Homo sapiens: one gene and its partners. The protein of the gene in region 3 interacts with the protein of the main gene of each other region in a biochemical or structural test. Each region holds a gene or a part of one and is shown on either strand. Other genes may lie near its edges.

The links.
Region 1: the proteins of PAWR (region 3) and WT1 form a complex in vitro, tested with the Homo sapiens proteins (one study listed by BioGRID).
Region 2: of the proteins of PAWR (region 3) and DAPK3, one has a biochemical effect on the other in vitro, tested with the Homo sapiens proteins (2 studies listed by BioGRID).
Region 4: the proteins of PAWR (region 3) and SPSB4 interact in a biophysical measurement, tested with the Homo sapiens proteins (one study listed by BioGRID and IntAct).

Annotation. Positions count from the first base shown.
Region 1 is NC_000011.10:32,432,172-32,440,962, forward strand, and holds the start of WT1 (Wilms tumor protein), read right to left. Parts: upstream 3,369-8,791; 5' UTR 3,190-3,368; coding exon 2,529-3,189; intron 1,870-2,528; exon of another isoform or gene 1,594-1,869; intron 1-1,593. UniProt on the Homo sapiens protein: Transcription factor that plays an important role in cellular development and cell survival. Recognizes and binds to the DNA sequence 5'-GCG(T/G)GGGCG-3'. Regulates the expression of numerous target genes, including EPO.
Region 2 is NC_000019.10:3,960,704-3,968,850, forward strand, and holds part of DAPK3 (death-associated protein kinase 3), read right to left. Parts: intron 4,289-8,147; coding exon 3,928-4,288; intron 3,671-3,927; coding exon 3,541-3,670; intron 3,217-3,540; coding exon 3,168-3,216; intron 2,967-3,167; coding exon 2,940-2,966; intron 810-2,939; exon of another isoform or gene 711-809; intron 459-710; coding exon 306-458; intron 1-305. UniProt on the Homo sapiens protein: Serine/threonine kinase which is involved in the regulation of apoptosis, autophagy, transcription, translation and actin cytoskeleton reorganization. Involved in the regulation of smooth muscle contraction.
Region 3 is NC_000012.12:79,583,512-79,590,244, reverse strand, and holds the end of PAWR (PRKC apoptosis WT1 regulator protein), read left to right. Parts: 3' UTR 1-5,366; downstream 5,367-6,733. UniProt on the Homo sapiens protein: Pro-apoptotic protein capable of selectively inducing apoptosis in cancer cells, sensitizing the cells to diverse apoptotic stimuli and causing regression of tumors in animal models.
Region 4 is NC_000003.12:141,060,477-141,068,623, reverse strand, and holds part of SPSB4 (SPRY domain-containing SOCS box protein 4), read right to left. Parts: intron 2,673-8,147; 5' UTR 2,520-2,672; coding exon 1,826-2,519; intron 1-1,825. UniProt on the Homo sapiens protein: Substrate recognition component of a SCF-like ECS (Elongin BC-CUL2/5-SOCS-box protein) E3 ubiquitin-protein ligase complex which mediates the ubiquitination and subsequent proteasomal degradation of target proteins.

The DNA of each region.
Region 1 (8,791 bases), on a different chromosome or scaffold from region 3:
TTGTGAGTGGGTACCAACAATTGCCCCTGCCTGTGCACCATGGCTAGACTGCCCTAGGGATCCAGAGACGGCCTTGATTCCTCTCCCCTGGGGTTTGGCCTTGGCGCTCTGATGGCCATTTCCACATTTTTGAGAGTTGATGCCCTTGCCTCTCACAGCCCAAGTCTTGGGCCAGGCCCTGCATTCCTGGGGAAGCAGCAGGAACCCTGGAAATCCAAAGAATAAACCCAGAATCTCGAGGGCCACCCTTGCCCACTCCAGGATAGCAGCCGGAGCGCTTCTCACATCCAAGCTGCCCAATGAGCCTCAAGGGCTGGGTAAGATGGACCCATCTGTTTTCACTGCAAGACAAAACTTAAACCTGGAGATGGTGCTTCCAGGCTATATGACTTGAATCTAGGGCCCTCTCTCCATTGGGCTTTTTCTCCAGGGTGGAGAAGAAGGATACATTCACCTACTAGTCCTGGTCCCCTTTTAACTTTTTCTCCATGGCAGCCACGCCTGTATATTACAGAAGAATCCAGATATTTTCCAGAAGTGTAATGCCTGCTGGCTGCAAAACCCACAGTCCCACCCCCCACGACATGTGATAAGATCCCAGGCACCAGACCTGCCCTGAAAAGGGCTGGACAAGGGACCCAAACGAAGCGACAGAACCCAGGTTTCAAAAATCCCCTAGAAGTACTAAAAAGATAATGGCGTAGTAGTATTTTGTGCCCCAGGGGCATGGATTCGATGGTTTCTCAACCGCCTCCAAATAGCACACATGCAGACAGTGCTCTCGGATTCATTGTTTCTCAGTCACAGATGTTTAGATGGGTTGCCGAGTTCCATATTTAAAGCCCCAAGAGGGTGGTGGGTAGCGCTTCTGCATCTATGGAGTATAACTTCAAGCCGGACCCAATCTCCAGGTTGCCCATCTCAGCTGTCCTCTTATAGACGGGGACACTGAGACCTAGAAACTCCCCAAAAGTAACACCAGCCTGCTAAACAAAGGTGGCGCGATCTGATCAAAGAACACAAGCCTCAGCGACCAGTAAGTTGTCCCAACGCCCCTTGAGTACAAAACACTAATTTCACTAACTAAAAGCATAGAGTGGAGGCAACCCTTGGGTCTGCTTGCGGTTCCTCCACAGGACAGTGATCCCAGATTCTCCCGAAGAAAAGGGCGGTTTCGATTTCTCCAAGGCTTCGCGGGGGCCGGGTGCTCCTGGTTAGGCTAAGGTAGGAGCGGCCTGAAGACGCGCGTTTAGAAGGCGCGGGTGAAGGCGGGCAACAAGGGCAGAGCCCTTCTCCCGAGCCTTGGGCGAAGGTACCTCCTGCAAAAGATACACTCTGCTTCCCACGCATTCCAAAAACATCCCGGTCCCTAGGCCCTCGAGTAATTTTGCTCCAGGAAAAGCATCCGCCATTGTATTAGTAAAGCGTTTACTAAATTACCGAATCAAACCGAACTGGCTTAGGTTCTCAATAGCGTGGAAATCCACTGAAAATAAATGAAGAGGGCAAACTACAGGGGCTCCGCAGGTTCGGGTCCGCGCCGCCCAGGCGAAAGAGAGGTGGGCGGGCATCGGCGCGGGATGAGAAACCAACCTGATACTTATCGTGTGCCGAGTTCCCTCCTTGTATCCTGACTAAGCACAGCGAATAACCCTGTCCTTGTTCTAACCCCAGGTCTTGAAGAAATACTGTCCCAGCTGAGCCCCGCGTTTACAAGATGAAGAGGCGCCCCAGATGCGCTGAAAGAAAGGCCAAAGCTCGTGCCTCCTTCCACTGCCTGCGGTAGAACCTGGTCCCGCATAGCTTGGACTCGGATAAGTCAAGTTCTCTTCCATCCCCAGAACCTGCGTGGCCGCCGCCTGAGCGAAGCCCAGTGAAGATCCACTTCTGTATTACCATACGCGGGAGCTATCCACGGACACGACGCTGTTCCAGAAAGCCATTTAGTTACTGGAGGTGCATGTGCTCATTCTAGTTCTCTACGATACTTAATGTGCACCTAAGTGTGTGCCAACACCGTATTATAAGGGCTGGAGGTGCTCCTGGACATTTTAGCGCTGCGGAGGCAGCACAGCACAGGCGCTCACCCCCGCGCTGGTCCCACTCCGAATCCAGAGTCCAGACGTCTGAAAAGCGCTACGCTTGGTGACAATTTGGCGTTTCCTTAATTAACAAAACTCTCCCCAAGGCAGAGCCAGACACTGCGCCGGTCTCCTGGTTCCACTCCCGTGGGGACTAGCAGTCCCGGAATCTCTCGGACTCTAAGGGGCCCCAGACGCCCTCCCGGCTCTTGCGAACAGTCAGGCTCCTAGCTCTGCCTGGCTTTGGAGGATGTCGGGGGCCAGTGCCTGCGTGCACTCCCACTCTCCGGCCTCCTCCCCAGCCGCCGCTTCCGCTATCCTCACGGCCCTTGGGAAGCAGCTGGGTAAGAGCTGCGGTCAAAAGGGGTAGGAGAGGGGGGTGTCCTAGAGCGGAGAGTCCCTGGCGCCACTGCCCCGCGCGTAGGGGGCGCTCCCCGGCCTACTTACCCTGATTGCGAATAGCGGGCTGGCTCTCGAGGCAGCTGGGCAGGTAGGGCGCGTTAGGAAACATCCTGGCCTGGCCGGATGACGCCTGGCTGGGCGGAGGAGGACCGAAGGGCCCGTAGCGACAGGCTCCGGCTGTGCCAGTGAACTGGCCGGAAAAGTGGACAGTGAAGGCGCTCAGGCACTGCTCCTCGTGCGGCTCCGCGCCGCCCCAGCTCGGCTCCTGTTTGATGAAGGAGTGAGGCGGCGGCGGCGGGGGTGGCGGCGGAGCCGGTGGCGGCGCGGGGCCGCCCAACGACCCGTAAGCCGAAGCGCCCGGGGGCGCAAAGTCCAGCACCGGCGCCCACTGCGCCGCGCCGCTCACAGGCAGGGCACAGCCGCCGCCGCCACCCAGGGAGGGGACGGCGGGCAGCAGCGCGTTCAGGTCCCGCACGTCGGAGCCCATTTGCTGCGGCTCAGACCCGGACGCCCCGCGGCTCCTCCGGCCCTGGAGACGTTCAGCGCTGGCCTCGGCGGCGCCTAACTTGGCCCAGATGCCGCCCGGGTCCCGGACTCCCTGCTGCTCTGGCTGCTGTAGGCACCCAGGCCCGGAGCGGAGCGTGTGCTGAGACGCCGGCTCCGGGACACACGTGGAAGCCGGGTCCTGCAGCAAGAGGAAGTCCAGGATCGCGGCGAGGAGACGGCGGGGCCCGGGCGCCTGGGCTGCCGTCCCGGCTCTGGGTGGGTGGGTGGGTGAATGAGTAGGTGGGAGGGAGGGCGGGAAGTGGGGGAGCGGACAGGCGGTCGGGTTGCGGAGAGCCCCCGGGTGTGGGCGCTGCCTTGAACTCCTTACCCCAGCTGCCTGGCTGCCCTCAGCTTCCCAAAGCTCAAATAAGAGGGGCCGGCGGCGCGGGGAAGAGGAGGAGCCAGGAGGCTCGGCCGCTCCATTCACTCAGCAGCCCAAGCCCGGCCAGGCAGCGCGCGCTGCTCCTTGGGGGCGCCCTCGCAGCTGGGGTGAGGGCGGGTCCGAGGGAGCGTCCCTCTCGGAGACACCCTCCTCTTCAACCCAACACGCGCTCTCAGCTGGCCGGTGTGGCACAACCCTCCCCCCACCTCCCCTTCTTGGCCTTCGCCAGTGTGGGAGCCTCGTCTCACTGGAGAGTCCGTTCAGGTAAGCAGTGAGTCCGGGCAGGGTCGAATGCGGTGGGAGTAGAGATGGGGTTGTTAATCTAAAAGAGTGGTTTGGAGGGAGGGGCAGGTAGGCTCCAAGAGGGCGGGAACTTCAGGAAAGCGCAGAAAGAACTCAGTCAAGCTTCAAAGAAGCGTATACCCTTGCTTTGCACCCTTGAGTCTGGCTCTTGCTTCTAGAACTGTCGGGTAGGGGAGTGGCCATGATCTTGGGGTCACTGGGGAAAGAGGTGGCCCTTTGTGGGTTCCAGAGGTCGGGACTGAAAGCGAACGTCCCTCAGTTGGGTGGCCGGGAGTTGCACCAGTTATAAGCCGGGCGTATTTCGATCGGCTAGTAGTTGTTTACTTGGTGAGGTTTGCGCCAGGCGGAAGGCGGTTGCCGCCTACCTAAAATTGGAGTCAGCAGCACTTAGTTTCCCTTTCCAGTGAGGAATATCTAATTCTTCTACGGTTAAGCCGGGAAAACAGCGGCTAGTTTAGGAGGGAAGAAAACCCTTGGGCAAACGCCCAAAGCCTGCGTATATTCCGGCCGGAGCATCCTGGCGCCCAGTTTGGGGAGGAGGGGTGAAGGGGAGGGTTTGGATACGAAGCCCGGCAGGGAGCGGGTAACTCCTGGAGCCACTCCGCCGAGCACTGCCTGTGGCCCTGGTCGAGGATACCATTCTGGTTGCTCAGTGATTGACCAGGAGGCGGAAGCCAGTTAAGGGGACCAAGGAGTGGAGTAGGGAGAACCTCCATCGGCCCACGGGCGCGAGTTAGTGTTCGAATCTTTGGGAGCTCGAAGAGCTTCGCTAAATCTGACTCCCTTCGTCTAGTCTCTGTTTGGCAGCCCCCGCGCCCCAGAGCAGGTGTTTGGGGCGGGTAGGGGGTGTTTTGGTTTGGTTTTTGGATCTTCTAAAGGAGTCAGTATCTATTGGGAAACAACCCCTAGGCAAGGAGAAGAACCGGGGGCCGGAGCGGAGCGTGTTTCAGAGGTGCGTATAAAATCCCAGGGGCGCCAGGAGGCAGCAGCGACGGCGCAGCGTGGGACGGCCAGGCGCGACGGGAGGGAAGCAACCGGTTGCAGTCCGGCCTCCTGTACCTGGCTGGCCCGGGCTGGGGCTGCAAGCTTTCCAGCCAAACTTATGTGAAGCAAAGTAGTTGCAGTTTGACAAAGAATGGCGTTTCAATAAATGACATAGTAATTTTTTACGCTTTGGTTTTTAGCTTGCATTGCATAAACGTTGTCGCCATTAAATTCTGGCTGCGGACCCGAAGTGTGTGCGGGCCCAGGACTTACTCGAAGGGCGCACTTCTTGGGAATGCGCATCCCGTAGGCGCAGGAGACCCTGAGGGTAAAGATGCGGCACTTGAGCCCTCCGCTTGCCTCCCAGGCCACCTTTGCTGCTTGACTTTGCGTCGTCTCCACTCAGAAGCTTTTAAAATTATTATTAAGAAAAGAAAGATTCTACAAGACACTGCCCCCACGCTCTCTGCTCAGTCCTCTCCCACACGATCTATCCCTAAACCTTTCGCGGGGCTCGCGCGTTTGGTTTTTTGAGTGGAGAAAGGACTCTCGAGACAAAATTCACTGCCAGTTGCCCTAAGAACCCCCCAGATCCCTGTATCTCCCTTCCTTCTCCCCGCCTATTATTTCTACTTGGAAGTCGTTTTTCTTAACTAGGACTCAACTGTGAGGGGCGAGGAGCCCTTTATGAAAAGCCGGGGACTTTCATTTCCAAACGAAAAGATTGAGATTGTTTCTTCTTTTACCATCCTTGGCACTTTTAGCGGGGGGAGAGGAGGTTATCTGAAGGGAGGCTGGCTTGAATGTGAGTCGTTGTGTTTGTGAAACCCAGGTAAGGCAAAGACACGTAAATCTCTGCCAACATTTTTCAAAAATAAGTTTTTGCCCCGGGGTGAGGGATGTAGGGGTGGATAGGAGGAAAGGAGAGCCAAGCAAATGTAGAACTCCTCTCTCCTCTGCCATTTATTTTCTCAGAATCCTTGTGGGGGCGGGGAGGGGAAGAGCACCGGTGCGAACCCCGGGGTGCCCCCTCGCCCGACTTGGACTTCTCCGACTAAAGAGGTGGGAGGAGTTCCCTGCAGCCTGCGGGGCCAAGAAGAAAGTGCTAAGCTGAGGAGCCGCAGTCGGAGGACCCCAGGGACCCGACAGGAAGTCTCCGTACGACCCCAACGGATCCACATGCCCGGAAGCCCAGGCGACACTAAGCCAGCGCTGGGGAACTGACGTACTCCTGCAGTCGCAGGGCGCTCCATGCCTCTCTGTCCTCTTCTTTGTTGTGGGTAACGTTCTCTGCGGGAGACCTGAGGTTTTCCAAGGGGGACATGCCAGCTACACTGGCCTTGGCGCCCTGAGCTAAGCACCAGGACTCACAGCCTAGCACGAAGGCAGGTAGCACCTTCACCCGCCGCGGACGATAGGCGCTCTCCTGTACCTCCTTTAGCTCGCGAGGCCCGCCCTTCGCGAGGTCCCAGAGAAAAGCAGGCTGTGGAAAACTGGGCGCCCCCTTCTTTCACCCACCTTCTTACCCCTGTCAGCGCCGAGATCTGTAGCAGAGGTTCCTGGTCTGAACCACCGATTGGCAAAGAAAGCTGCAGATTAAACTTCTCGTTTTACAGAGAAGGAAACTGAGGCCCAGACAGCCGAAGGAGAGGCAGTCTATGGAGCGCAGCGGTAAAGAGCAAGGGGTTGGTGGCCCCAGAATGGAACCTCAGCTCTGCCAGGTAACCAACAGCTGTGTGACCCTAGACGAGTTCCGCAGTCTCTCTGAGCCTCAGTTTCCTTACTGGTCAAACGGGATAATGGGATACTAGCGCCCACCTCATAGAGTTGTTCTGAGGATTAGATAGGAGAGCAGTGTGGGCCTTTGACTCAATCAACTTTACAGTTTTTGTTACTACTACTGTTTAAGGACAGGAAACAAGTTAGTGGCAACGCCGAGCTGAAACCCGGGTCTCTCAACGTCCAGTTGGAGGTTTTACCCACCACCCCTCTACCTCTTCAGAGCTAATGGGATGCAGAGGCGAGGACAGCCCCTGGAAAACCATGTGGCGTTGATACACTGGCAAAGCGCAGGCATCCCGGCCTCGAAGGTGCATAATTATTGCAATATGAAAAAATCGAGGCTGGGTAGGAGCAGGGCAGTGAGGATTTCTCAACCCTTACTTTCACCCCGGCGCTGTCCACTGCATCTGACAGAGCGCGGAGCTGGGCTGCTACAGCCGCAACCCCAGGGACCAGTGCGCACGCCTGGGCCGCCCTCCGGGAGTCACCCAGCGGCCGCGGACAACTGAATAAACACCCCAAAGCGCTGCGGTCGGTCAAGGGCGGGGACAGCCACACTGCGCGCGGGGCCCGCAGGCCGTAATAAAGAGTGGCTCGACCTCGCTGCTGCCTGTCGCGGGAGAGGAACAAGCTTTCGACTAGCGCCTCTCCCCGGGGCCCGCGCCCCGAGCCCCACGCGCAAGACAGCCCAACAGCTGTTCCTCCCCTCCCCGCCGACTCCAACTCTTCGGAATCTGCCCACTCGGGGCTGCAGGGCAAGTGTTTAGGATGGTTCCCAGCCCCGCGCTGGCGGTGAAAATTTCAACGTCATTCCTTCAATTAAAAAAAGGGGGGGGCAAGGGAGGGGCTTTGTGATAACTACTCCCAGCTTCTTCTGATCATTTCAAAATTAAGTCGATTTTTTTTAACCAGTCCCCACTTACTGTCCTAACTCTCCTCGCTGACCCTATCTGGGAGCCCGGAACCGTTAGGTACTGCCGAATGCGGTGCAAAATTTCCCCCTCTCCCCCAGTTCGCAGTGCCTGGAGCCGCTGGGGTTACTCGTCTGTTCTGATGCCACCGCGAGATGGTCCCCGAGCTCCCCGAGAGTCCTCAGTGAAAGGATTCCGCGGCACTGCCTCTATTATTATACCGTAAATCTTTTTAAATTCTGGAACTAATTATATAGAGGATATGTCTCAATTTGTTCTGCATTAATGCCACAGTGGGGATGGAGGCCAGGCCGTGGCCAGAGCAGATACGTAGGCCCATGAAATTGATGAACTGAGAGTTGCTTCCAGTCCTGAGCGCACCATCTGGAATTCCAGTCTGAGGTTACAATTAGAACTCCTGACCCCAGATTCAACTTTGCAAACAACAGGGGAAAAAAATGGGGAAAAGAAAAACCACGAGAGAGGGAAAAAAAATTATTCTGCACCTGTAAAAAAAAAAAAAAAAAAAAAAAAAAAAAAAAAGTCACACAATCTTAAAATCTTTCCGTCTTAGACAATTCTTTCCAAGTATTTCTTTTGTGTTTTTTAACCTATAAAAGATAATGGAATGTTTTATAGACTGGATTTTATCTCATCCCCTTTCCCTCTCCCAACTGCCCTCAGTTTAATAGTTGTCAGTTTTACCTCAGTGTTGAATTTAATTATATAGGAACAAAATATTCCTCAGTAAATTTGCTTGCTAAATATTCTGTCACATTTACTTCCCCTTTGAGAAATGGCTTAATTATAGAAATCTACCTGCATCTAGGAATTTTTTTTCCCTTTTCTTTTTTGACCGCCATTCCAGCTTAATCGTAAGCAGAGATTTTATTTGTGCAGTAATTTTATTTGTGTTCTAAATTCGTTTAGCCAATTTCTTCCTTCTTTCTTTAGTAACACCCTGCTTTATTTTCCTCTCACTTTGACCCCCTGAAGAAAACGAAGGACCAAGCAGTACTGGAGAATCTGTTAAATTTATTAGCATAAATGCTTAGACAAAACGAGATATAAATCATTCAGATGTATTAAGCCATAAAGTATCCCAATGAAGTCAGTCCCTTGCCAGGGTCCTGGTGTATAAATGTTCATATAAAACAAGGTATCAGTATTATCTTTCAAACTGAATATATGTTGTAAAAATATCCAAGGTTGAGTTAGGAATATGGGGGGAGGGTGCAGCAGGGCAGGAAGGGGATATTCTTTAGACCAGTTTGTTAACATAGTGGTGGCTCAGAAAGTATGGTGGAAAGGAAAAATTTCAACCGTTTACATTTGGAGTCTTCTTAGATAATATGTTTTTAAATAACGGTATGCAGGATATATTTGAGAGCAAAGGAATA
Region 2 (8,147 bases), on a different chromosome or scaffold from region 3:
GGGAGGCAGAGGCTGCAGTGAGCCGAGATCACGCCACTGCACTGCACTCCAGCCTGGGAGACAGAGCAAGACTCCGTCTCAAAAAAAAAGACTCCGTCTCAAAAAAAAAAAAAAAAAAAAACCATGGCAATGGCCAGCTTGGGCCACCAGTTTATCAGTTTACTCTCTCCAGCCCAAGGGGTAAGCAATGTCTGATCCCCAGCCGCAGGGAGGTGGCGCTGGGAGGAGAGTCCTCTGGAGCCTCCGTGGGTGGAGTGGGCCTGTGTCCCATGTCCCACCCCGTGCCCCCTGCCGGCCCCTCGTACTTGGGATCTTTGACGAGCAGCCGGCGAATGAAGTCCTTGGCCAGCTCGCTGGTGTTGCTGAAGTACTCCTCGTCGAAGTCGTAGTTCACGGCTGAGATGTTGGTGAGCGTCTCCTGCTTGGTCTCGCCCAGGAACGGGGATGCACCGCTCAGGCTGCGAGACAGGCGTGGGGGCTCAGTGGGGTCCTGGGCTCCCACCACGGCCGCGCCGCCTCTCCGGCTGCCCACGACAGGCGGAGCACAGAAGACAGGCTGACGGCAGGTGCCTGGGCCACTCACACTCCTGAGCCCTTAGAACCTTCCTGCAACGATCCCAGACACCACCCAAGAGGCATTCAAAATCCACCCCCCCACCCCGCCACTGACAGCAGCAGAAATGAACAGGCAGAAGTCTCCTTGGAGACTCGAAGTATCTGTGCAGACGCAGAGCCCGAAAGCCCCCAGTGCTCAGTAACGCCGAGGGGAGGGTAACTGCAGTGGGGAGCCCGAGCCAACACCTTAGCCAAAGGATCAAGGTCAACAGCCCGGCAGTGAGAGGCCCCAACAGCGTCTGCCTCCCAGCCTGACGCTGGGAGGGTGACACAGCATCATCCCTGGGGTTTTGAGCAGAGACACTGAAGCCCCGTCTGATCGTCTGATCGTGACAGCGCACGAGACTAAACGTGGACTCAGACGCCTTCTGCAAAACACCTGACCCGTGAGCACAAGTCAGGGTCAAGGTCATGAAAGCCAGACAGAGGAACAGCCTCAGACTGGAGGCGGCGAAGGAGCTGAATGGCTAAATGCCGTGTGGGGACCTCAGAGAGGACAGGAGTGGAAAACGGGGGTGTCTAACCACCTCTGGCACTTTAAATTTTTTAAATTTTTTAGAGACGGAGTCTCGCTCTGTCACCCAGGCTGGAGTGCAGTAGCGCGATCTCGGCTCACTGCAAACTCCATCTCCTGGGTTCATGCCATTCTCCTGCCTCAGCCTCCTGAGTAGCTGGGACTACAGGCACCCGCTGCCACACCCAGCTAATTTTTGTATTTTTAGTAGAGACATGGTTTCATCGTGTTAGCCAGGATGGTCTCAATGCCCTGACCTCGTGATCTGCCCTCCTCAGCCTCCCAAAGTGCTGAGATTACAGGCGTGAGCCATCGCACCCGGCCCATCTAGCACTTTTGTGATTAGCGTAGCACCAAGGCTAACGTCTTGGTGTTCATAACGTTCGTGTTCATGAAAAATGTAAACTGAAGGAGGAGGAAGCTGCAGGGGGCGTCTGTGCTGTTTCTGTTGCTCCTTTGTAAGTCTGAATTATCTGAACATTTAAAAAGAATACAAACGGTCTAGCCCATCTCCTGAAGCCTTTGGGTCCGCTCACGCACTACAGCGGGCTGGGCCCACGCCATTGTTTATTTCCTTGCTTACTGAATGAGCTATGCCCATTCAATATGGCTGGGCAACACAGTGAAACTCCACCTCTACAAAAACTTTTAAAAATTAGCCAGCTGGGCACGGTGGCTCACACCTGTCATCCCAGCATTCTGGGAGGCCAAGGCGGCCGGATCACTTGAGGTCTGGAGTTCAAGACCAGCCTGACCGAAATGGTGAAACATCGTCTCTACTAAAAATACAAATAATTAGCCAGGCATGGTGGCAGGCACCTGTAATCCCAGCTACTTGGGAGGCTGAGGCATGGGAATCACTTGAACCCGGGAGGCAGAGGTTGCAGTAAGCCTGAGCTGAGACGGGGCCTTGGCACTTCATCCAGCCTGGGCAACAAGAGCGAAACTCTGTCTCAAAAAAAAAAAAAAAAAAAAAAAAATTAGCCAGCTGGGTGCAGCGGCCCACGCCTGTAATCCCAGCACTTTGGGAAGCCGAGGCAGGCAGATCACCTGAGGTCAGGAGTTCAAAACCAGCCTTGATCAACATGGTGAAACCCCGTCTCTTCTAAAAATACAAAAATTAGCTGGGCATGGTGGTGGGCGCCTGTAATCCCAGCTACTCAGGAGACTGAGGCAGGAGAATCGCTTGAACCTGGGAGGTGGGGGTTGCAGTGAGCAGCTGAGATCGCACCACTGCACTCCAACCTGGACAACAAGAGCAAAACTCCATCAAAAAAAAAAAAAAGTCCGAGCATGGGAGCATGGTTGTGTGCACATGTAGTCCCAGGTACTCAGGAGGCTGAGGTGGGAGGATTGCTTAAGTCTGGGAGGTGGAGGCTGCAGTGAGCTAGGACAGCACTCCAGCCTGGGCAAGAGAGTAAGACCCCGTCTCAACAAATAAAAATAATAAACAACAGCAGGCCCACGTGTGGCCCAGGGACAGGAGCCAAAACCCAGCGTGGGGTCGGACCCCTTCCTTGCACTTCGAGAGGAGGCTGGGCTCCCTAGCAGCCAGAGGGACAGGAGCACACACGACCCCCAACCCGGAGCCTGCTCAGCCGCTCTGTGAGTGTCCTGCCTTCAGAACTCTCCAGAAGCCTCTGTGACAGCAGCCACAGAGAATCACTCATCCGTTCACCCGGTATCCCCTGAGTACCCGCGATGGGTCACAGCCAGGCTGGGGACCCCTGGCGTCCACATGAGACACACGGAGCCGGGGACCCATGCCAGCTGTGTTGCACAGCCGAGGGGGCCCCCGCCAGGTACTCACAGGATATAGGTGATGACACCGATGCTCCTGGGGACAGACAAGAGGCAAGGGTCAGCGCAGCGTGGGGCCGCCCACCCTCCCAGGACCGTGGCGTCCAGCGCCCCTGTTCTAGGGCAACGGTCCCCCCATACCCCAACAGCAGCAAGGCCCCGCTTCATCCCCAGCTGCAGCACTGGCCTGCGCTCCAGGAATGCAGGGAGGCCCGGTGGGAGCAGGTGGTACACTCACCACATGTCCGCCTCCAGGCCCAGCGGCTCATAGTTCACAATCTCTGGGGCTGCAGAACAGGGAGATGTGGGTCAGGCACTGGGGACATGCTGGCCAAGGAAGAGGCTCAAGACACAGGCATGGGGTCAAGGTTCTCACATGTCGCAGCCCTTGGGGGCATGAATGCGGCAGAGCTGGCCCTCAGGGCCTGACGGGTAGGACAGCGGGGCTGCACCAAATGGAGGCCCAGACCTCCCGCAAAGCCGGGCCCAAGAGGGGTGGCTTCAGGGCCGAGGACGCGGCACCCAGCACCGGGCATGACCCACCCCACGCACAGCAGGCAGCCCCAGACCACCCTCCCCAGGCCGGGGCTGCCCACTGGGCAGGGCCTCACCCACAAACTCCGGGGTGCCGAAGATGTTCTTGAACTCGTTCCCCGCCTCGATCTTGTGCGCGATGCCGAAGTCGATGAGCTTGATTCGTGGGTTGGGCACGTTCTTGTCCAGCAGCATGATGTTTTCCGGCTGGGGTGGGAGGAGGCTCAGCAGGGAAAGCACGGGCCTCCCCCACCCTCACCCCCACGCTCCCCAAACCTCACCCTCACGCTCCCCGCAACCTCACCCCCACGCTCCCCCAACCTCACCCCCACGCTCCCCAAACCTCACCCCCACGCTCCCCACACCTCACCCCCACGCGCAGGAGGTGCCTTCCAGGCTCTTCCCCGCCCCATCCCCACCCCCACACTGGCCAGGCCGGCCCCACAGGGCCCTACAGGGCTCACCTTCAGGTCAAAGTGTGCGATGCGCTTAGAGTGCAGGTAGTGAACGCCGTCCAGGATCTGCTTGAGGAACTGGGTGGCCTCGTCCTCCGTCAGCGACTCCTTCTCCGCCAGGAAGTCAAAGAGCTCCCCGCCAGAGACCAGCTCCAGGATGAGGACCACGTCCGTCTTGTTCTCGAAGATGTCGTGCAGGGTGATGATGTTGGGGTGCCGGATCTCCCGCAGGATGTTCACCTCCCGCTCGATCTCCTCCCGGCTCACCCCACGCCGGCTGGATGACAGGCGGCGCTTCTTGATGAACTTGGCTGCGTACTCCTTGCCCGTGCCCTTCTGCCGGCACTTCCGCACGATCGCAAACTGGCCGCTGGAGGAGGGGGAGGGAGTGAGTGGGGGTGGAGGAGGCGGAGGGAGTAAGTGGGGGTGGCTGGCTCCCCGTCACCTCCACTTGCTCCTCTTGGGCGCGGCCCTGCACCAGGCACTTGAAGGACATGAGCTGGCCACTGCGGGGGTGCAGACTCTGCGCCTTCTCAGAGAGCAATTCCTTAGCGCCCCACACCATCAGACGCGGCGTTCCCACCCCTCCCAGGGCTATGCCCAGCAGGTGTGTGGAGGGGAGTGCAGAGCCACACGTTAACACCATGGCACCGGCGTATTTTTGAAAAGTGAAAGAATGAACAGTTCAATGCATATCAAGAGGGAACTGAGGGGGCCAGGCGCGGTGGCTCACGCCTGTAATCCCAGCACTTTGGGAGTTCGAGGAGGGCAGATAACTTGAGCTGAGGAGTTCAAGAGCAGCCTGGCCAACATGGTGAAACCCTGTCTCTACCAAAAATACAAAAAATTAGCTGGGTGTGGTGGCGGGTGCCTGTAATCCCAGCTACTTGGGAGGCTGAGGCAGGAGAATCGCTTGAACCTGGGAGGCAGAGGTTGCAGTGAACTGAGATTGTGCCACTGTACTCCAGCCTGGGCAACGTAGCAAGATCCTGCCTCAAAAAAATAAAAAGTGCAAGGCAAGTGCCAGATCCGCTTTTTTTGTTTTTGTTTTGTTTTGTCTTGAGACAGGGTCTGGCCCTGTTGCTCAGGCTGGAATGCAGTGGTTCAGTCATGGCTCACTGCAGCCTTGACCTCCTGGGCTCGGGCAATCCTCCTGCCTCAGCCTCTCAAGCAGCTGGGACTACAGGCACATACCACCACACCCAATTAATTTTTTTTTCTTTTTGTAAGGATGAGGTCTCACTATGTTGCCCACGCTGGTCTCGAACTCCTGGGCTCAAGTGATCCCTCCCAAGTAGGTGGGACTACAGGAACACACTACCACACCTGATTTATTTATTTTTTGTAGAGACAGGGTCTTGCCGTATTGCCCAGGCTGCTTTGGAACTCCTGGCCTCAAGAGATCCTCCCACTCCCCCACCCCAAGTGTTGGCAGTACAGGTGGAGCCGCTACATCTGGCCAGTATCCGCATTTTAAAGAAACCAAGGCTGAGAAAAGGAAAGCAACTAGCCCAAGGTCATGCAGTCAGTCAGTGGCGGGAGGATTCAAACCTTCAAACCAGGTGCTGCAGGCTCCAGAGCCCAGGTGCTCTAACAGGAAGCAGACAGCTGCTGCTGGGTACCGGGTTCCTGCGTGCCTACCTCCCGGCTCCACGCTGTCTCCTGCTAACAGACCCAGCTGTCCCAGGGCAGCCTTTGCCGCTCACTCTCAGTCTGTGGGACTCAGTGGCCCAGGAAAGGGGTGGAAGGGGACACGACTGGACCTGGGCAAGCAGAAAACCACGCCTTCCAGCCCAAAGAGACCGGTCCAGTCCACAGGGCTCTGAACGCCTGCTGGGAAGAGAGGATCTCTCTCTCCCTCTGCTGGGCTTGGATCCAGGCTCGCGGCAGGGGCCACCACGTAGAAGGCTACCTAAGAAGCCTGCCTAAGAACAGACCAGGCCAGGAGAGGGGAGCCACCAGGCACTGCGGGTGGCACATAAGCCCCGTCATTCACTCTGCCAGGGCGCCTCCTCCATGCTGGAGTGGACTTCGGCCCCGGGGACACAGGGCACCATATGCACCAGCACCCAGTCACACCTGCGGCCGCTGCACACCTGGACAACCTGGTTCTGTAAACCACGCCTTTCCCTGTTTTGCTATTGCCAACCAGATTTCAGGTTCTGCCACTGAGTCCTCCTACAGCAACAGCAGACCACAGCCGCCCACCTCCAGACAGCCCCCGGTCTCACTGGCCACAGACTTGCTCCTTAGAGGCAAGGCCACTGGCAGGCTCTCAGTTCCTCTACGGAATGTGAAACGTGCCTCATCTCCCCAGCCGGGAAAGAAACTCCCCAAGAGCTGAGCCCACCCTCTTCGCTTCTCTGTAACTTCCCCAGCCCCCAGCGCAGGTGGGGGCACAGCAAGCCCTCCTCAGTGATGGTCTCAGGTGTCACTCCCAACCCACTTCCTAAGTGCCTGCCACAACCCAGACACGACCCAAGCGTGGCCTACACACCGACAATTTCTACTGATAGAGTTCATGATGTTTAAAAATGCGGGCTGGGAAGCCGGGCACAGTGGCTCACGCCTGTAATCCCAGCACTTTGGGAGGCAAAAGCGTGCAGATCACGATGTCAGGAGTTCAAGACTAGCCTGACCAACATAGTGAAAGCCACGTCTCTACTAAAAATACAAAAACATTAGCCGGGCGTGCTGGCAGGCATCTATAATCCCAGCTACTCGGGAGGCTGAGGCAAGGAGAATCGCTTGAACCTGGGAGACGGAGGTTGCAGTGAGCTGAGATTGCGGCATTGCACTCCAGCCCGGGCGACACTGCAAGACTCCGTCTCAAAAAAAAAGTGTGGGCTGGGGCCAGGCACAGTGGCTCACACCTGTAATCCCAGCACTTTGGGAGGCAGAGGCGGGCAGATCATTTGAGGTCAGGAGTTCAAGACCAGCCTGGCCAACATGGCAAAACCCCGTCTCTACTAAAAATACAAAAATTAGCTGAGCACGTTGGTGGGCGCCTGTAATTCCAGCTACTTGGAAGGCTGAAGCAGGAGAATCACTTGAACCCGGGAGGCGAAGATTGCAGTGAGCCAAGATGGCACCACTGCACTCCAGTCTCGGCAACAGAGCCAGACACCGTCTCAAACAAACAAACAAAAATTGCTACATTCTGGGCCTTCATCTTGCACTTCATGTATCTCTGAGAATGTTCCAGACCACTACCTGAAGCAGTGCCGTCAGAACAGCAGACACTGGCCACCCAGAGCTGTCAAACCCGTGAGGTGTGGCCAGTCCCGAGAAAAACTGCGACATGAAATACACACCAGACCTCCAAGGCTTCACGGCAAAAACAGAAGGCTAAATACTTTTTTTAAAATTATGAATTTCTGTTTGTTTGAGAGATGGGGGTCAACTTATGTTGCCCAGGCTAGTCTTGAAGTCCTGGGCTCAAGCGATCCTCCCGCCTTGGCCTCCCAAAGCGCTAGAATTACAGGCGGAAGCCGCCGCACCTGGCCCTGCCTGGTTCTTTTTACAAGCTGCATCCTATTCCAGCCCTGATGCAGTGGTTTGGGGAAGGCCATTTAAGAGGCTGCTGTTCCCAGCGGGGTGCGGTGGCTCACGCCTGTGATCCCAGCACTTTGGGAGGCCGAGGCAGGTGAATCACCTGAGGTCAGTAGTTCGAGACCAGCCTGGCCAACATGGTGAAATCCTGTCTCTACTAAAAATACAAAAATTAGCCAGGGGTGGTGGCGGGCTCCTGTAATCCCAGCTACTCGGGAGGCTAGGCTGGAGGCCGAGGCTGCAATGAGTCGAGATCGCATCACTGCACTCCAGCCTGGGCGACAGAATGAGATAGTGTCAAGGAAAAAAAAAAAAGGCTGTTATTCTGGTAAACGTTCTAGCAACTACCCCAGTCTTAAGTCATTCCATCCATGTATGTACAGTTTTCCAATGAATTAATTCCTAGAGGTGAAATCGGCGAGTTAAAAGAAATTTGGCTGAATTTTGCTGACTTTTGCCAAACGACCCCTAGCAGGAGGGGTCAACACTGAAGCATGAGAAGGGGGAGGAGGGAGCATGCTTTCTCTGCCACTAACGAGGAAATTCCTGAAGGAGGGACCTCAGGATCCCAAAAGAGCCTGCAGCACTCTCCCTAGCCTGACACAGAGCTCACTTATTTACATTCCCTTCTGGTGACATCATGGGGAGGCTCCAGGGAGGCTGGCCAGTAGCAAACT
Region 3 (6,733 bases):
CTGGGCAAGAAGAGCGAAACTCTGTCTCCAAAAAAAAAAAAAAAAAAATTATTAATACTTTTAAAGACTGAGCTGTTTAAGAATTTTTTGGGGAACATTTCTAGCAGTGATTTTTTTGGCCTTTAATGATAGCGTAAAGACAGGAGCCTTACAACTTAGGCAAAGCATTTCACATGCAGTCCTTCTTCCATCTCAAAATATGTACTTATTTTACATACAGAATTTTACACTAACCATTGAAAAATAAAGTAGGATCTGCTACAGTTTCACCTGAAAATTTATAAAAAGTGTTGAGATTGGTAGAAGGTAGTTTTTAAGTACATGTGCACTACCCTAAAAGACTTGTCTATTGTCAATAAAGTGTTAGTATTTGTGAAATTATTATTCCTGTTCAGAAATACTATTTCTTAAATCTCCTGGGAATTTGTGGCATAATAAAGCACATTCAAAGTTCTAATGTATTTATGAGCTCATTTTCAAAATAGTAAGTTTGTCATCTTTAAAATGAACATGACTTGCCTCCTTGATTTCTGAAATGAATTAATTGAAGATTGCTATAGTAATCTTTATTTCATCTTTCTAGAGTTGTTGACAATTTTATTATACAACAGTTACCATTAGAGAAGGAGGGAAGGGCTTTTGGGTGTGTATTTATAGGTACTAAGGGATTTACTAAATATAGTAGATTAGCACTGTCACACTTGTTCAAGTAGTTTCAAACATAGAAAATTAAGTATCAGGTATGTGGAGCAATGTAGTTTTTTTTTTTCTTCAGTTTAAAAAATTTTTAATTGTGGTAGAAGCAATGTATTCTTAAGGTGAAAAACCTACCTCGGTTACATGTGGTTTGTGTTTTTTGGATTAATCTGGATTTTATAATTAGAAATAAAAATGTAAGATTTTGAATCCACTTAATTTCTTGAAAATAGTACAAGTCAGTGTAATAGAGAAGCATTCATATATTCAACACTGTAAGACAAAACAGCAGAGACCTTGGATTTGATAATTGATCTGATATCCTGGACAGTATTCATATGTACAGTGATAGGTATCTTTCTTTGGAGTTTTTTTTTTGTGCATATGTGTATAGTTTTATGGGTTCTGAGTTGGTGACCAGTAAGTTGCATGTAGTGCTGGCACTTACTTAATAACTATTCATGATATTGTTAATAACTTGTTATAGGATTGTATTCCCAATTACAGTCTCTAAGATTGTAATTGATATTATCTGAGAGGTAGTGTGACAACTTTCTTTTGTTGTTACATTAAGCCGAAAACATAATACTAATAGACAACTAACAGTTTGCTTATCAGGCACATCAACTAAGGCACCTCCCCCCATGCTAAGTTTCTCCTGGATATATGGAAGTTGATTGTTTCCCAGTTTAAAAACTTGAACTAATATCTCCTAAGAAAATCTGAGTCCATATTGTTTTTATTTTACTTAGCTAGAATCTCATAGCATGTTAAAGTCATATCCTTATCCCCACTAAAAATAACTATGTCTATGTGAGAGGAATATAGTATGTGGGAGCTGTATTAAATACTATTACAGGTGTTACAGAATCTTTAAATAAATGGACATGGACCAACTTTCCATCTAGTAGTGTACGATCTATATAGTGCATGTCAGTAGCACAAAATGCAGTCTTAGCATTAGCCTGTCTAATCTGAATAGTTTACTCAAAAGTACTTCTTTGTGTTAAGTATTCAGCCACTGTTTTTAGATCTAGTTAATAGGTTCTATTTAATTTGCTACAACATTTACTGAATGGTGGAGTGAAAAAACTGATGCATACTGGGAAATATCTACCATTTTTTAAAGATAATGTTAATTAGGAAAAGAACACTTTTAAGGAATTTATAGCAGTGATGAAATGAATTCAGTTATATCAGATACACCAAACTGTTGATGGTATTTAAATGTGACTTCAAGTTAGTATTTCTGTATATATTATTGATTACTGGTTTGTTTTTAGATATGTAAGTCTGTTCTAATCTACAGTTCACATATCGACAGTTACTCTGGTAATAATAGAATGTTAGTGATGATCACTTGGTGGATGTTGATTAAGTGCCTGTGTTTTGTTTCCTCCTCTGGATACCAAATAGGTGTATGCTACTTTTTTGGTGAACTTATTTCTTGGAAGATTTGGCTATGCTATTCAGGGTTTTTATTCTTATGTTTTTCTTCTAAATTTAAGTAGCATCCTGCTGCTACCATATTAAAGCTAAAATTTAACTTTTGCTGAAGAATCAGCTAATTCAGGTAATCCAAATATTTGTGGAAAAACATCTGGATAATTTATTGAACACATTAGTATTGTGTTAGACAGCTTTGATCATTCCCATTTCATAGGTTTTTATTGTGGAATAGTCAACTTAATATAGATTCACTTTCAATTTGCATGTATAAAGTAATACTCAATAAAATTTTTTTCATTTATTTTTCAACAGTGGTTATTTTTTTTCTTCCTGTACTATCAGTAAAATCCTGACTATGAGTTTTACTTTTGAAGCTAAAGGATAATGCTGGTAATCTAATTATGTACCTCTTACAGAAACCATATGCAGCACTTTAAAAATCTTTATTTGGTATATTATTTTAGGTGGACAATGATTTAAGACTCAAAGCCATCATATTAAGGTCTAAATACATTAGTGGTGGGGTTTCTCGAATAAATGAGGAAGTGCACAAAAGTTCAGCCTGACTGAAAATTTTAATTGTGTTTTAAAACTACATGAATAATTTCTTGATTCAAAATCAGAACTCTTATAAACTAAATCTGATGGTGTCCAAAGAATTTCAGGTCCTTCAAAGTTTGTAAAAGATAAGTAGGGGCCTAGGAATATAAAAATTTAGACTTTTTTAGTAAATGGTTTACATAACCTTTTGTCTTAATTTGTCATTCTTCATACACAGGCACAAGCTAATCAGTCTTCTCTACTTCTAGAACTCTAAATCTTCTCAGTAATGTCATACAAGTCTAACAAGAGGAAAAGCATCCTTAAGTCAGTCTATTTAGATAAACTCTTCAAGTCCCTATATAAGGACGTATTCCACTAGCAAGCCAGTAAATTTTTCCAAGGTCACATAATCTTACATGAAATGGAACCTTTCATCTTAGACTTCATCAAACTCAATTTTTTCCCTTCTAGATTCACTTTGTGTTTATGCATGCATGCACGCGTGCACACAATTCTATCAGCAGCTGTAAACTACCCACATATTTTCTTAATCTCATTTTTTCAGTTTTTCTTCATCTTTAAAAGAGGTTACATTTCATTCCTGGTCAACTCTTAAAAAGAATTATGTAATGTTGGGCCTTCATATTAAAGAGAGAGACTGGTTATAAGATCCTTTACAGTCCATTCATTTTATTCTGATGTCTAACCAGATAGACACTAGCAAGCAAAACTTCCCTCTTAATCCTGGACCAAATGCATAATTTTACTGTCACTTTCAAAAATCTGTTATGACTGAATCAAAATCCTTTTAAAGAAAGGAAAAAGCTCCTTTTGTGTCAAATAGTTGAACAACATGAAAACAGTATGAGCCGGTTAAAGATAGATTGAATTTTTACTTTACACATATGAAAAACAGTAAGTTTTGACTGCTGTGTATGTTATTCATGTTAATATGTGCTCAGTTATTCACTATTGTTAATCCACATATAATCAGTTGCTATCCCTGGTTAGACACACTATGGAACTTGAAATGCACAATATTTACATTGTTAGAGGCTTCTATCCAAATATCTGCATTCCTTTAAAATGTGAACTATTTGCTGTGATTAACCAAAGGTAGATTATGTCATCAGTGGACATTTTAGCTTTATGGAAACAAATTATTAAGAAATGAATAGAAAGGTGTCTTTTTCTTTGTGTAGTGCAAAAGCCTAAAGCTATCAGTCAAAGGCCTAAGAAATCCACATTTGAAAAACGTAAATCATGATTGGTAAGAATACATTCATCTGATAGTATTGAGAAAAGTTGAAAAACTGTTAGCCTTCCATAACACATTAAACATTTTATGTATGGATGGCTGAAAGTATTGAGAAAAGCTGAAAAACTGTTAGCCTTCCATAACACATTAAACGTTTTGTGTATGGATGGCTTAGGACAATAAACAACATCATTAAAGTAAAATTATGTCAGTCTGTTCATATTAACTTATTTAAATCAATGAAAATTTTGATGAGATGACTAAATGGATGCTTTGGAAATGCAGGATTATAGGAGGCCTAAAAGTGCATCTTGTTTCTTGTAACCCTTTTAAAACCAATATGCCTGGCTAGGTGCAGTGGCTCATGCCTGTAATACCAACGGGGTAACACAGGGTTATGCCGTCTATACAAAAAAATAAATGAGCTGGGCAAGATGGCATGCACCTGTAGTCCCAGCTGCTTGGTAGGCTGAGGGGGAAGGATTGCTTGAGCCTGGGAGGTCGAGACTGCAGTGAGCCAAGATCACACCACTGCACTCCAGCCTGGGTGACAGAGCAAGACTCTACCTCAAAAATAAAAATAATCAATATAGTTTCAATGAAGCAAAGCATCTCAGGTAACAATTTGAGCATAACTTTAACCATAACTTATGATAGCATAATAACATTCATTAGTAATTCAGTAGCCGTATGTGCCAGGCTGTGTTAGGTGCTTTATATATTGTTTAATTTTTAAAAACTTGTGGAGTGTACAGATTGGTAAGGTGACATTGTATCACAAAGCTAGTCTTTGAGTCCAAAGTTTTGTGGTTTTATGTTATGATATACTTTTATCATGGAATTGTCTTATTAAATGTTTTGCCAGTGGTTCTTAAAGTGTGTTTCTGACACCAGTAGCATTGACTTCACTTAGAAACCTGTTAGAAATACAAATTATTTGGCCCCACCCAACACTTGAGTCACAAACTTTGCAGATGGGGCTCAATCTGTTTTAACAAGCGCTTCATGTAATTTTGATGCAGGCCTAAGTTTTTGAGCCACTGCAGTATGCATTTCTATTTTTAAGCAAAGATCTTGGTCTTTCTTTTTGGACATTGTAGAAATAACATGAACTTGTTTTTTGTTTGTTTTTGTTTTGTTTTGTTTTAAGCTCCTGATCTTTGTTGGTTATGTTGCAAAAGATTGTATCAGGAGAAGCCTCAGCATGGACATTGGCATCCTGACATAACCCCCATTAATTTAGTATTCTTTCTGAAACTCAAATGGATTCTCAAGTCCAAGAGACTATGGAATAAAATCATTGTTTGTCTGTGTTAAGTTTTATCTCTGTTATTGCCTGAAGACTTTTGGTAACAATAATGCGCTTTCATCAAACTTTTAAGACTTGATTGGAAAAAATAAATGTATGTTTCATCAGTTATACAATTTGTTTTGTATGTGTTTTGTATGGGTGGTCCCTGAGGAGCCTGAATCTTCAAAATATACTTTCTGTGAGCTCAGAAAATGAATAGCACTTTTGAGCTAATTGATCAGTGTGGAGAAATCACAGTGTTGCATCCTGATGAGTAAAGATAAAATTGACTCTTTATCGATTCAAGATCATTTTTTATATAAATAAATAAGCTACTCCTGTTTACTTTTTACAAACTTGAGAACAGTTTTAGATTTATAAAGTTATTGTGAAGATAGTACAGAGGGTTCTCATATGCCACCACACCAAGTTTCTCCTACTAACATCATACATTAATACTGTGCATTTATCACAGTTAATCGTCCAATATTTATGCACGATTATTAAAGTCCATACTTGATTCAGATTTCCTAAATTTTCCCCTAATGTCCTTTCTCTTTTCCAGTGTCCAGTCCAGGATACTACATTATATTTAGTACCTGTGTCTCCATAAAATTCTCTTGGCTGTGACAGTTTCTTAGATTTTCCTTGTTTTTGATGCCCTTGACAGTTTTTAGTTCTGGGCAGGTATTTTTCACTTTACTATGGATATTTCAGATACACAGAAAAGTACAGAAAATCGCTAGCAATATCCTGCTAATTTTTTGTTATCTGTCCTGCTTCCTTTTTCTTTTTTGTTGGGGTGTTTTAAAGTTAAACTCCAATTATCCTTTCACCTGCAGATACTTCAGTATATATCTCTAATAGTAAGAATTTAAAAGAATAACCACAATGTTATACCTAACAAAATTAATATTAATTATTTAATATCATCTGTTTACTTTGGGTTCCCTAAGAAGCAGGCATGCATGAGATTTATTGGGGGAAAACACTTGTGAAGAAAATTGGAGAGGGAGCTAGAGGAGGTTGAGAAAAGTGTCAGAACTTGATACAGGTCTGCCTGGTGAAGGGGAGAGGAGGATAGTTGGACAGGAAGTCTTAATCCATAGTTGTTTTAGTCCATTTGTATTGCTATAAAGGAATACCTGAGGTAATTGAGAAAGAAGTTCATTTGGCTCATGGTCTGCAGGTTGTACAAGAAGTATGGTGCTAACATCTGCTTCAGGTGAGGGCTTCAGGCCGCTTCCACTCACAGTAGAAGAGGAAGGGGAGCCAATGTGTCACATGGCAAGAGAGGATGGAAGAGAGTGGGAAAAGCAGGCCTTAATGCCCTTTTAAACAACCAGCTCTCATGAACTAGAGTGAGAACTCATTACCTTGAGCATGGCACCAAGCTGTTTATGAAGCATCTGCAACCATGACCGAGACACCTGCCACTAGGCCCTGTCTCCAACATTGGGAATAAAATTTCAACATGAGATTTGGAGGAGGTCAAA
Region 4 (8,147 bases), on a different chromosome or scaffold from region 3:
TTTTGCAGATGAATAAAGTGAGTCTTAAGGAGTAAGAGTGACTCACCAAAGACACAAAACCACTGAGCACTTGGAAATAAGTCACATCAGACTCCAGAGCCTTGGTACACCAAGGCCACTCTTCTAGTCCAGTGATTAATTCCAGCAAATAAATTTTCCAATTCCATTAAATAAAGATTGTTTGTTGTTTCTGTTGGTTTTCTCACCACTGGGATTTGCCTGGTCACTATGTCTCAGAAGGCTCCAGACACTTTCCACAAGGCACTGTGATGACTAAATTAGCCCTTCTCAGGGACATAATCATCAGTTCCTAGATTTAACCCATTAAACAGAGAAAATGGAACAACATTTTGCCATTCAATGGCAATTGTAGGCAACAACCACGGAAATAAAATATGAGCAAGAATGTCGACAATTATGCCAGAGTGCTGAGCATACCAGCAGCCACTTTTCCATTAGCCTGCCACCCTTGGAAACCATCAAATGTCCCCTTCCTGTGCTCCAGTAAATGTAAATTTTGCTTGAGTAAAATCTTGTCCTTGACTTCTTTTCTGGAGAAGTGTTACTCTTTTCTGGAGTGTTACTCTCAGTCCCTCATCTAAAGGGGAGAACATAGGAAACGAGTGGACTTCAGGGCCATCAGAACTGGGGGGAACCCTGATTCTGGCTCTCTGTAGCTCTGCTCTTAAGTTTTCTTATTTCTAAAAGGAGGATCTGCCTCAGGGGCTGGTAATTACATCTCTTATTTAGAATGAATAAACTGGAAATTCTAGCTTTCAGCGCCACCTCTGAGAGCTTCATTGGGGTGTGGCAGGAAGTCTGGATTGGTGCTAGTGGGCTGATGTTGGGGAGTGTGCAAGCCCACAAGTGCCTGGCTCCTGGCCCCTCAGCTGGGATTCAACTCAGGACAGGCAGCCACGTGTGCCTCTGTCCAGAGGCCACCCTGTCTCCCTGAGTGACTCCCTCCCAAAACCAATAACCGTCTTTGTTCCTACACTTTTTATCTTGCCGGATGGTTGTGTATATTAAATGAGAGGAAGCCATAGAGTTGTCAGGGGTCAACCCCAGCAGCTTGTGGGCTGGTTTGTAGCCTGCAAGGGTATTTTGTTTGCCCATATAGACTTTTCAGCAGCTGTCAACTTTAAAAATTGGAACAGTTCACACAAGCTAGATTTCTGGGCTCTCTTGGAAAAAGTCACAAGATTCCACAACCCAGGGTTTTCATTCCCGTGAGATGACAGTCGGCTGGAGATAAGAGGCAGCTGTCCCCTTTAATAGTTGGCCCATAAGCGCTGGAATTGGGGTGTTCAGCCTCTCAAATACAGTAGATGGCCAATAAAGGACGGTTATCAGTACTTATTACTTATCAATAACTTGAGTACATGGCATTTAAGTGCAGGGACTGGGGACTTGTCACTGTCTTCCCATTGTGACTAGCTTGGGTCATTTGGTACAACCTTTGTACAGACTGGAAGATTGGTAATTGGCATCAACACTCAAAGCCCCTGTTGGGTGCCAGTCACTGTTCTGAGCACTTCACACATGTTATCTAGATCTTCACAACTGTGAGCTAGATTACTATTACTTTATTTGATCGTTACAACTGTGAGCTAGATTACTATCATCGTGATGCTTTTGCCGATGGGAGAACTAAGGCACAGCCCCAAATCACCAAGCCAGCAGAGAGTCAGGATTGAAACCCAGGTCCTGACCATTCCTCCACATTGCAGGATCCTCCCAAGTGGCGATGGAGGTGTGGCCTGCCCAGCTTCCCTAGGGCCTGGCAGCCTCTGAAAGCCCTGCCCCCCAGCCCAGCACAACTTACGGTCAAGGCCGTTGATGTAGCGCATGGTGACTTCACAGTGGCCCCACACGGCACTCACCACCGGGTACAGCTTCTTGCCCTTGAGACCTCGGAAGGCCACGCCCAGGTACTGGCCATCCACGATGAAGCTGAGTGTGCCCTCATCCATGTCCAGCACCACGAGCAGCGAGTCGGGCAGCGCAAAGGCCTCGTCGGGCCCCAGAAAGGCCGGGTAGGCCACGCCGGGCTGGTTCTTGCCGTCGTGGTAGAGGCGGCTGCGGCCCAGGTCCCAGCCCCACGACTCGGCGTCACTGCCTACCAGCGCCGTGTAGCCCACGGAGTGCAGGGGAGCACGGGCCGTGGCCACACCAACTACAGCGTGGGTGCCGCGCTGCCGAGCCGGCCAGTTGATCTGCCAGGCGTGCAGGCCGCGGGCGTGGCCCACCTTGCCGCGGATGCCGTCGGTGCTCTGGGCCACGGGGTGCCGGTGGAAGGTGAGCCGGTCGTCGTCCTTGACGAAGACGTTGAGCGAGCGGTCCTCGGGGTTCCACGCGTGCCGCAGCTGCACAGCCAGCCCCGCCGCTGGCATGTCCAACAGCTGGTCCAGCCGCGCCGGCCGCCCGGGCTCTGCACCCCGCAGCTCCCGCTTGGCCGGCCGCAGCGCCGGCTCTCGCACCTCCACTGACTTGAGGCTCCCCGAGAGCTTCTGGCCCATGCTTCACTGCGGGGAGGAGGCCGCTGCAGGCCACCGCTACCTCGTGGGAGCCTCCACTCCCCGTAGCCAGGAATGGGCCACGGGGCTGGGAACCAGGCTTCCGGACGGTAGACCTCCACAGCCTCTACCGGGCTGCGGCAGGGGCCCAAGCTCCTGGAAGGAAGCAAAGGGCACGGGTTATAGCAGCAGCATCAGCAGCCAGTTGCCAATCCCTTCATTTATGTCCATGCCTTGGCTGAGCCCTTTGCATGCACAATAATAGTAATAATTCGTACACTCATATCTGGCACTAATCTAGCACCTGCCATATGCCAGTGTTCTAAATTATTTATGTTTATTAGTTTGTTTAATCCTTAACATCTCCCTATAAGAGATATACATTATTATTCACAATTTACAGATGAGAACACTGAAGTCAGAGAGAGGATAAGCGATTAGCCGAAGTCCCACTGCAAATAAGTGACTGAGCCAAGATTCAAACCAAGGTCATCTGGCTTCAGGGTCTGTGTTCCGGACCTAGAACAATCATAGGGAGTCTGATTTTAGAAATAAGGCGTGAGCCCAGAGCAGTTGTGACTTGCTCAAGGTCAGAGCCTGGATGAGAACCCAGGTGCTTTTGATCCCAGGGGACAAGCCTTGTGCCAAGGCTGGGGGGCACACAGCTGCTCAAGACACAGGGCTGTAGGGTGTGGCCCATTGGTTCCCAACCCTGGAGTCCTGGGGAGCCTAAATAACCTCCTAAAATGTAGCCAGGCTTGAGCGGCAAGACACAGAACAAGGTGCAGCAGGGTCACCAGGGACATGGACATCAGGCAGCGTGGGAAGATGGGGTGAGAGCTCCATGGGAAGGTGAATGGAGGTCAATAGAGGTGAGGAGGAAGGATAAGGGAGCCGGTGTCCAGGCTCTGGAGCCAGACAGAACTGCGTCCAAATCCCTCTCTCCATCTCCTACTGTGGGTCCACAGGAAAGCCTCCTAGCCTCTTGGATACTCCAGATTTCTTGCCAGTAAAAAACATGAGGATAAAACACCTCCCTCTGGTGATGGGGGAACTTGAGAGACCATAATATAAAGGGTCCTGGAACTCTGCCGACAGGTTTTCCTCTCTGGCTCTGTTCTCTGGGCATCCCATGTGGATCCCCTCCCTTTGGATGGGTGAGCTCTTTGTTCGATCAGGTAAATACCATTAACAGCACTGACCCCAGACTGCCTTCCCTGAGACAGGATCCTGGTTTTCATGGAGAAGGAATTGGCCACCATCACTAGGAAACCAGACAGAACCCAAGGAGCTCGGACTACTTGGACGGGCCCTGGGTATGGAGAGAGATGGAGAGCCAAGCCCTGTCCAGAGCAGAGGCGTGTGCCCTCCCCTCCCTGGCCTGAGAGCTGCTGGGCCTAGAACAACTTCTCCTGAGCCAGATGAGGAGATGGATGGGTGTTTTTCATGCCCTGCCCTCCCCAGCCTCAACCTCCCACCCAGACAGTGGTACACCCCTAGCCAAAGTCCAGGTAGGGACGAAAAGAACTCTGCTGCCACACAGCACAGACAAGTATCCTGTGGGTTTTTCACCATTCCATTTTATTCTTAACTCTCATACTCTTCCCTCTCTATTGTCAGATCCCAGCTTCAGCAGATGTTGACCCTATTCCGAGAGCTCTGGCTAATGTTCAATCTGAGGGAATACCAGAACACATAACAATTTGCAACACTAGGCAGTTTTAAGATAGCAGAATAAAGTTACTCCTTTTCATATCCGAAATCACCCAAAATCCAGGAGAAAAAAAGAAATGCAAACTCCTTCTTCAGCAAACTAGAACACATTTATAACCTGAAACACAGCTTATAAGGAAAGGCTGCCCAAAACAGGTAAGGGCTACCAAAAGCAGTGAAGATCAAAAATACTGTGAGAAAACACCTAGAGAAGACACCTGTGGTGGCAGATCTCAGACAAAGCTGGCAGAGCCAGCCAGGAGCTGGCATTCCCTGAAGGAAAAAACTAATGATCCCTTATCAGAAAAAATGGGAACAGGGCATGTGGTCTGGTAGTGGGAGCTGCCTCCTACACCCTGGGGGAAGAGGAGGGCAGGGCCAACAGAGGAAACCACAGACCCGCCATCTTCACAGGAAGCAGTGTGTTGGCAAGGCAGAGTGAGAGGAGGGCTCTGAATTGGGAGAAGCCCACAGCTGCAGAACTCTGCTGACAGAGTAGAAGCAAAGACTAAAGGAAGTCACTACAACAACCCTGTGAACAAAGTTCCTGGGAACCAGGGAGCAATCCTGCCCTCTTCTTGGTACCTCCTCCACATGTGTCTCCTGCAAAATGCTGATCCAAGAAGGTTTACCTCTTTCAAAGAGGAACCAGCACAGGATATAGTCAAAGATGCTATAGAAGAAAGAAAGGAATAAACGAACAGGACAAAACATGGCAAACCAAGCAAACTCACCTGAAAAAAGCTGCCACAAAGCAGATAAAAATGGGAACCAAATTTGTAAACTAATTTTGTGATTGATTATTTCAGAAGGGAGACACCTAGCATGGTCTCAACAAAAGATTAAATCCATTTTGGCTAGTTATAAAGGTAACCTCCAGAACTAAAAATAAAAATACACATCTTGCAGATACAAACCTTGAACATAATACAAAATAAAACAGATCATATACTGAAAGATTTTGTTAGAAAGCAAGAGAGGCAAAAAGGCATAAAAGCATGAAATATGATAGTAAAACTAAGACCGAAATATTGACCATGTCATTAAATGGCCATAGTAAACTGCTAAAAAAAGATTATAAGACTGGGGAAAAACACAAAACCCCCAACCATATGCTACATATAAGAGACATTCCCCAAAGCAAAGTGATTTAACAATTTTGAAAATAAAGGAAGGGCAAACACATAACAGGGAAGTGTGAACTCAAACTAAGCAGGCACTGTAATCTTAATATTAGGCAAGTAAAGTTGATTTCAGGACAAAAGGTTTTAAGTGAGACAAGAATACTTAATAATAATAAAGAATGCGATCCACAATTGAAGACCGAACTCACCAAATAGCACCAAAATTCAGAGCAAAAGCTAGAGGAAATATAAGGAGGGGCCTTAGACAGACACACATCAGAGGCATGTAATTTTAATTTCCCTCTTCTAGCTCATGATGGACCAGTGGACCAAAATTAAGTAAAGACATAGAAAAACCAAATTACATAATTAATAAGACAGATCTAACTAATGTGTTCATCAAATTCTATACCTTGAAAACAAAGAATGCATGTTCTTTTCAAGTGTTCATGGAATGATCAAAAAAATTTTCCTGTATATTAGGTCACAAACAAAACTTCAAAAAAAGCAAAAATAATACAGTATCTGATAACACAGAAGGAAAACTAGAAATTAATCACAAAATTATAGATCACAAAATCCTATCACTTAGGCATTTTAAAAAATTCTTTAAACAACTTGACCCCAACTCAGATCAAAAAAGAAATCCATATAGAAATTGCAGAATATCTGGAATACAACAATAACAAAAAGCATTCCACATACTAGAACCTGCGGGGTGCCTCTACAGCAGTTCTCAGAGGAAATCATGGCTGATATATTTATGCTATTAAATTTTAAAAAATGAATGGAGCATAATAAAATAGGGAAATAATAGAACTAAGCAAAAACTAAAGAGATGGTTCTTTGGGAAAAACTACCACAAAAACAAAACAAAATCAATAAAACATATAAACTATTAAAGCTAATCATGTAATGTATCATATTATATTATGTTATATTATTATATTACTATTATATTAATCTATCATGTTGATAGTGTGTACCCTTGATATGATATAATGAAATCTTCCTTTGGGTGTCTTCCCCAAAACCCATAACCTCACTCTAATCATGAGAAAAACAAAGGACAAATTCCATCTGGAGGCCATCCCACAAAATACCTGACCTAACCGGCAAGGTCATCGGAACCAAAGTCTGAGAAACCATCATAGTGAAGAGGGCCCTAAGGAGACCTAACAATTCCACATAATGTGGTATCCTGGATGGGATCTGGAACAGAAAAAGGATATTAGGGGCTGGGCTTGGTGGCTCACACCTGTAATCCCAGAACTTTGGGAGGCCAAGGCAGGTGGATCATTTGAGGTCAAGAGTTCAAGACTAGCCTGGCCAACATGGTGAAATGCTGTCTCTACTAAAAAAATAAAATTAGCCAGGTGTGGCGGCACACGCCTGTAGTCCCAGCTACTTTGGAGGCTGAGGTGGGAGGACTGCTTTAACCCAGGAGGTGGAGGTTGCAGTAAGCCAAGATCGTGCCACTGCACTCCAGCTTGGGTGACAGAGGGAGACTCCATCTCAAAAAAAAAAAAAAAGAAAGAAAGAAAAGGAAAGAAAAAGAAAGAAAGAGAAGAAAAAGGATATTAGGTAAAAACTGAAATCTGAGAAAAAAAGGAAATCTGAAAAAATATGTTAATAACAATTATTAATATTAATTATTAAAATAAGTTAATAATAATGTATCAATACTGGTTCATTAGTTGTGATAAATGTGCCATACTAATGTAAGATGCTAATAATTGGGGAAACTAGGGTGATAAATGGAGTGAGCATATGGGACCTCTCTGTACTATCTGTTTAGTTTTTCTTTAAATCTAAAACTATTCTGAAGAAATAAAGCTCATTAATTAGAAAAGGTTAAATAAATGTCTAAATTTTAGAGAATACAAAAAAAGGACAAAAACTAGAATTCACCTCTTTCTCCTATCTCATTAACCAGATATAAACATTGTCAGCTTTTGGAGGAATTTTGCTTTATTCTCTCTTTTTTTTTGGTCTATAAATTATAATGAATTTTCTTTTTAAAAATTGGTATAATGGGCCTTTATTTAGATTATTTCACCTAAAAATTATGTAATTTGCATTTTCACATATCACTAAATATACTTTAAATGCATAAGTAACTAAATTTTTAAAAACACATAAAACATAAACCATATAATCATTTAATGGGGGAGAAGACAGAAATATGTAAAACAAGAAATGAAAATGGGAAATAACAAAACGGTGTAGCTGAAAGCACTTGTAAAAGAAGTTAGACTTGTTTTAACATAAGAAAAAATTTGCAACACAAATTACCAACAAATATATGTCAAACTCCTACAAATGAATACAAGTACAAAATATGAAAAGATATCAACAGTTTACACAAAAACAAATGGTTCCTTTGAAAAGATACTCAATGTATACTGAAAAAGAAATGAGTTAGAACTCCATTGAAATGCCATTTTTGTCTATCAGCTTATTAAAGGTCAAAAAAATGGATAACGCATGCTTGGAGAATGTGTGGAACAGAAGACAGACTCATACATTGCTAAAGTGGATATAAACTGGTTTAGCCTCGGCAAATGGCAAATTAACACCATCTTTCAGAATTGCAAATATACAGACCCTTTGACCTAGCAATTCTACTTCCAGCATTTATTCAGATATGTTCTCAAATGCACAAAACTACCTATGTACACAGCACATGCATACATACTGCATACATACGCAGCACTCTTTGCAATAGCAGCCCGGGCTCAGAGAGGTTGCATAACTTGCATAACCTGGGGTCACACAGCCAGGAAGTGGCAGG